2 separate regions of the Homo sapiens genome follow, and region 1 is linked to region 2. Evidence: fine-mapped expression QTL. A gene starts in region 2. The other region holds a variant in brackets. All regions are shown on one strand. Distances are between the middles of the regions. Region 1 has its middle 25 kb from the start of LINC02116. Region 2 holds the start of NDUFS6 (NADH:ubiquinone oxidoreductase subunit S6).

What was found. PIP is the estimated chance that this variant, and not a neighbour inherited with it, causes the effect. A credible set is the group of variants that fine-mapping cannot tell apart.
Region 1: its variant is the best candidate, but not a certain one, in a credible set for the expression of NDUFS6 in whole blood (TOPMed, PIP 0.62).

Annotation. Positions count from the first base shown.
Region 1 is chr5:1,829,619-1,832,634 of GRCh38, reverse strand. No RefSeq gene overlaps it. Among named protein-coding and RNA genes, the nearest start is that of LINC02116, 25 kb to the left of the region's middle. RefSeq lists enhancers at 75-768, 769-1,462. The variant T/C (reference allele first, on the strand shown) is at 1,241.
Region 2 is chr5:1,800,117-1,802,841 of GRCh38, reverse strand. NDUFS6 (NADH:ubiquinone oxidoreductase subunit S6) reads right to left here and starts at 1,435. Exons shown (of 4, transcript NM_004553.6): 1 at 1,293-1,435; 2 at 468-521. The coding sequence starts at 1,424. It also overlaps a transcript of MRPL36 not described here. RefSeq lists enhancers at 1,056-1,195, 639-1,626, 1,806-1,935, 1,996-2,045.

The DNA of each region.
Region 1 (3,016 bases), 30 kb before region 2:
TGTGTGGGGACAGTTTATCGCTGCTCCTGGCACTGCTCACACCGCGGCACGTGCAGGTTGCGTTTTGCCTTCAGTTGAGCCCTGGGCGTGCCCGGGGGGTTTCTGAGGTTTCTTGGGGGTCTGGGCTCTCATCACGTAAACAAACAGCTCAACGGTCTAGCCAGGAAGTGTGAACCCAAGTCAGGTGGGATGAGGGCTACTTTAAACAAACAAGCTACTCTGTTTTGTTTTGTTCTCATAGGGATTTACTTTAAGTATTTCTAAACATAGCTTTTGGAAGATTGTGGTTTTTTAGAGAAATAACTAATTTTATGATTCAGACACTACAGTTTGGTTACAAACTCACCCGTGTAGTGGAAACAGATGCCTGTAATAGGCTCTCGGAACCGCAGGTGCCTTTTAAGTGAGAAGGAAGGAAAACAGCAAGGAAGTTTCCCTTTGGATGCCTCCTCCCGGAATCCCTGCGGCTGGTGATGGTGAGCACACAGAGGTGCCATCCTCTCCTGCCACAGAGCTGATGATGGCTCTAGGGTGAGGAGCGACTCGATCTCCCTCCTGACCTGACTCCTGAAGCAGCCCTCTTGGTGCCCCTGCAACAGCAGGAGTGGAAGCACAGCCCACTCCCGAGGGAGACGGCACTCTCTCAGGAAGGAGGCAGCCCCAGCACCCCTGCGGGCCTCAAGGACAGATTCTCAAGTCCCCCTGACCAGACAGAGATGAGACACCAACACCCAGAGCTGCCCGAAGCATTCCAAGAAGCTGGAAGGACCGGGTTTTCTCCACAGAGGCCGGAGGCAGGGAAGGTTCAGCCCAGCAAGGAGCTGGCAGGAGGAGGAGCCGGGGGAAGGGGGCTGGGAACAGGGAGGGGCACAGAGAGGATGGAGAGGGTGTCCCCTCCAAATCCCTTTCCAGAGCCACCTGCTCCTGCTGCTTCAGCACAGCCAGCCCCAGAGTGCCTCTCATCCACAGCGCCAGGCCCCAGGCCCCAGGCCCCCTCTGGGGATCTCCTTCCATCTCCCCTGCCCCAGCAGCACCAGGGAAGATGCCTTTCTGGAATGTTCGCCTGGGCCTGGAGGGAATTTCACTCACACTAAGTGACATCTTTTCCTATTAGAAAACACACAGGGAGTGGAAAGTACTGGCGCAAGCACACACAGTTCTGGAAGCGACCCATCGTGGGCCGGGCACCTCCAGGGCGCTCCACGGCCATTCTCACGGCAGAACAAGCTCCATTCATTAA[T/C]GAGGGCGCAGTAACTCACTTGGAGTATGCAAATGTGTTTGCAGAGGAAAAAGGCATTCTCAACAGTATATAATAAAATTAAATTAACAGAAACATCAGCAAAATCAGTGACACTAATAAAGTGCCTCCCGTCCCCGCACTCAGGGGAGAGGCCAGGAAACACTGAAACACACCAGCCTGCAAGCAGCACCACGACCAACGACCCCTAAGTACTCTCAGTAAAATAACGAGCCACCCAGGAAAATGAAGGCGAGAAATGAGAACTGCTGGGCTCCACCAGGACTGTGCTGGACATTTGTTTCCGAAGTACATGTCCCATGAAGAGATGACAAGACAGGGAGCAGTCGGCCCTGGGGGGGTTGTCAGGTGAGGCTGTCGCCCAGCACAGGGAAAGGGCCACCTTCCTGGGAGCCCAGATTCCAAGAAAACAACGCACTCTGCTTTAAATGGTCAGCGTGTCTGGCTTTCGTTCTGATGCGTCCACGCAGCGCTTCCATCAGCGCCCAGAAGTCAGGTCCACACATATTAGAAAGAGCCGCAGAGATGGAGAAGGAAGCAGAGGTGGCTACAGAGAGTGGGAGGGAAGGAGAGGGCTGTAGCCTGCCTCTGCCGGCACTGGGGAGGAGGAGGGGGAGGAAGAGAAGGAGGGATGAGGGAGGAAAAGTGGAGGAGGGGGAAGTGAGAGGAGGGGTGGGGAGGGGAGGGCCAAGGGCATTGGGACCACTTCTGGTGCCTGTGGAGGTTTCTTCTGGTGAATCTCCACCTTCAGCGTGAACTTGCTTTTCTCTGTGAAGCTCTATGCAGGTATTATAGCAATGCAAATAGTGGCCTAGGAACAAAGTTTTCGGATATCAAGAGTAACTCAGAACCACATGCCAGACCATGAAATCACGACTCACATGTTTTGGGGGAAATAAATTGTGACCTTTATTTTGAACATTTACATGAAATAAATGAATGCATTGCTAATTGTTAACCAGATGAGAAGAACATGAGTGAGACTGTATAAAGACTCAGTGGAATGCATTTGACTGAAGATGATGGTCAATATGAGAGTTACCAAACACAGCCCTTCCCTGGTTTAAATGGACAGTGTGCAGACGTTTCCTCTTTTTATCTGTCAAAAACATGGACGCTATCAACGTGCTTCATGTGATTTTTAGAGAACTCCATTTAATAAAAAGGCATGTCCCACGAAACACAGAGAAATCCCCTTATAACCCTGAGTTCAGAGGACAATCAACATCTTCAAGGAAATTACGCGACACCAATGCGTTACTGCACATTTTTAGAAGGTATTTATTTTCCTACTTAACACATACTTACATTTTGCTCGCCCTGGCCAAGTGTTCTCACAAATGCTTTGTAGATTTTAAACATGTATATAATTGGGGAAGAAAACTGTCCCTAAGTGAACAAAATAAAATCTCCTCAAGAGAACAAACACATCTTCAAAGCTGCAGTTCTTAAGGGTTTCGGTCTCAGCATCCCTTACAGTTGTAAATATTACTGAGGACCCTAAAGAGCTTCTGTTTATGTGGGCAATGTGCGTTGATATTTACCTTATTAGAATTAAAACCGATCATTTAAAATATTTATTGCCAGGCGCGGTGGCTCACGCCTGTAATCTCAGCACTCTGGGAGACCGAGGCAGGTGGATCACGAGGTCAGGAGTTCGGGACCAGCCTGACCAACATGGTCAACGCTGTCTCTACTAAAAATACAAAAATTAGGTGGGCACGGTGGTGCCCTGTAATCCCAGCTACTTGAGAGGCT
Region 2 (2,725 bases):
CTTCCCTTACAATGCATAGAGCTAACAGACCCACTAAGGGAAGAAAAACTCATGTGCCATTTTCAGCTTGTCAGTGTAAGTCCCTGTAAAAAACACACACTAATTTATTTGGTGAAAACTATAAAAAACACACCTCCAGGTGGTTAAAAGAATAATTTTTTTAAAGTTGATATGATTTACTTAAATCTGAGAGTCTCAGGAGAATAAGGGACAAGAATTTTAAAAAAGATCACTTCCATTTATATGCAAACCAGAACTACGGCTACAATGTTATGTATTTCAGGGGGAAACAAGTCAGAAATAGACACAATTAAGATTTTAAGAAAGGAAGAACCCCATCCAGAACTGTTAGGGTGCTTGCAATATGGGGAAAATTTATTTAAATCTTATATATTAATTTTTATTTCTTGTTGGTTACATAAAAGTTTTAGGAAAGCTTACCTCTCTTCACTAGATTTTTTACTCACCTCTTTCTGACGACCTACAAACCGAATTCTCCTGTAGTCTTTATCATCATAAACCTGGAAAAAAACAAAAAGACCATGTGTGACTTTTACGGCCTAATTCTGAAAGTCACTTCATATCAATCATAAATATTACAGGAAAGTGTTTTTCTTAACTTTTAGGCCATTGATGAAAAGTCAAACAAGTGCACAGTACTCGGTGTAATCAGGGGCATTTTTAGCGAGATACCTGGGATGAAAACGGGTGGTCACCTGGATCAGAGAGCAGCACAGAGACATAGCCCGGGAAGGTGGAGCTAAGGAGGAGAGACAAATCCTGACCGAGGAGAACCGCCCCCAACCTTCTTTGGCATATGGCCTGAGAGCTTTACTATCCCCCCATTAAATCTACTAGGGCACATTCCAGTATACACAGGTACCTTTGTTCTTCATTTTGGCTTAGGGCTTTTTTGTGCCTTGGACTACAACCGACTTCTCAGGTTACTAAAATTTATTATTGAATATTACACAAATTCTAAACGTTCTGACCCAAATAATCGGCTGCCACAAATCGCCTATGGGCAGCCAGTCCACAGCAAGTGCTGCCCGCTGGGGAGACTTCCCGTTCCAGAGCCCGCAGGCCCTGGAAGGACGAGACCCACCGCTACAGGCTGCCACCACCGTCCCGACTCGCGGGCGTCCTCCCCGGCGCGTGAGCGACAGCACAACCTTACCACGACCTGCGCTGCCGGCGCAGAACCAGGGCCGCGGATGCCCGGCGAGCCCACTGCCACCAGTCGCCCGAGGTGCGGCTGGAGGAAGGTGCATCCTGTACCCAGCGGCCGTTACCTGGCCAGTGTGCGTGACCTTCTCCCCGGTCGGCGAGACCCGCACCCCGAAACACCTGGCGCCCAGGGGCAGGCTCCGCGCCGCCTCGCCACACCGGTTCAGCAGCCGGCAGAAGGTCATCGCCGCCGCCATTTTGCGCCGCTGGCCTTTGACCCGGCGCAACGTCCCGCTTAGCGCTAACGCATGCGCACGGCTTCTGGCGGCGCCAAACACCCGGTATTTATTTCGCCCTGGGGGCGGGGAGCGCGGGTCGGGGCAGAGGGTGCGCCGGAGCTGCTCTCTGATTCAGGTGGTCACCCGTTTTCATCCCAGGTATCTCGCTAAAAATGCCCCTGATTACACCGAGTACTGTGCGCTTGTTTGACTTTTCATCAATGGCCTAAAAGTTAAGCGGCCCCGTTGCGCCGGCAGGTGCAGCCTCATGCAGTTGCAGCCGCAGGCTAGAGCTAGGGCCCTGATGAGGCAGGCAATGGTGTGCGAAACCTTCAGCGATTAGGAGTACCCAGTGGTTCTTATTTAGCGGACAGGCAGGGGAGGATGTAAACTGAAAATACATTGTTTATATTCTTATGGTAACCGATAATCATGAGACATTTAAATATCAAAATTATTGGGTGAAGGAGTCAACTGCTTAGCAGACGAGACTGGAAGTGCATTCTCCTCGTTCAAGGCAAGCGTTCCTGTGTGTGGTTACGGGGAGCCGCAGAGGAAACGTATATTGGGGATTTCTGCAACAAAGCCTAGTACACCGACTGATTTTACAGCATGCAAATACAGCCTCTAAAAAGGCCCGTTTTGCTTAGAGTTGACTTGGGTATAAATCCCAGCTTAAGCTCCAGCATCCAGCTTTTCTTTTGCTGTGGTCAGAGCCTGAGGACCACGTGACTCCAAGAACAAAACACTAGAGATGGATGAGTGGCGGGGAAGATGATAAAGAGGAGGAAAGGCATGAGAAACAAGAATGCACATGAAAACCTCCGGTCCCAAAGATGTCCCAGCAAACGTGGTGGTCAGAGGCAGATTTGTCCTGGAGCTGATAAACTCCAGCGGCCCGCCCGGTGTTCGCCGGGTCAGGTGGAAAAAGTGGGCGCTGCGATGAAGCGTTGGGGCCTGCAGGGAGCGCGGAGTGGACGCAGCCACGTCTGCAACTCACCCGGACACACACAAAAAGGAAGGCGAATGGAGTTACGGGTAGATACCTGAAAAGGCAGGGATAAGCGAGCTAAGGGTAGAATCTAGGTGGCAAGTATATGGGTGTTCACCGTACAGTTCTTTCCCTTTTTCTCTATGTCCGAAGTTTTTCATAATGTTGGGGAAAACAGCCGTAACCAGTTGAAACTACTGCCCGTCTCCACTCGTTTCCCGGAGCCTGTTTACATTTCTCCTGTCCACTTAAAAACATGTCCTCTTTCTCAGTTTGTTTTGACATTGGT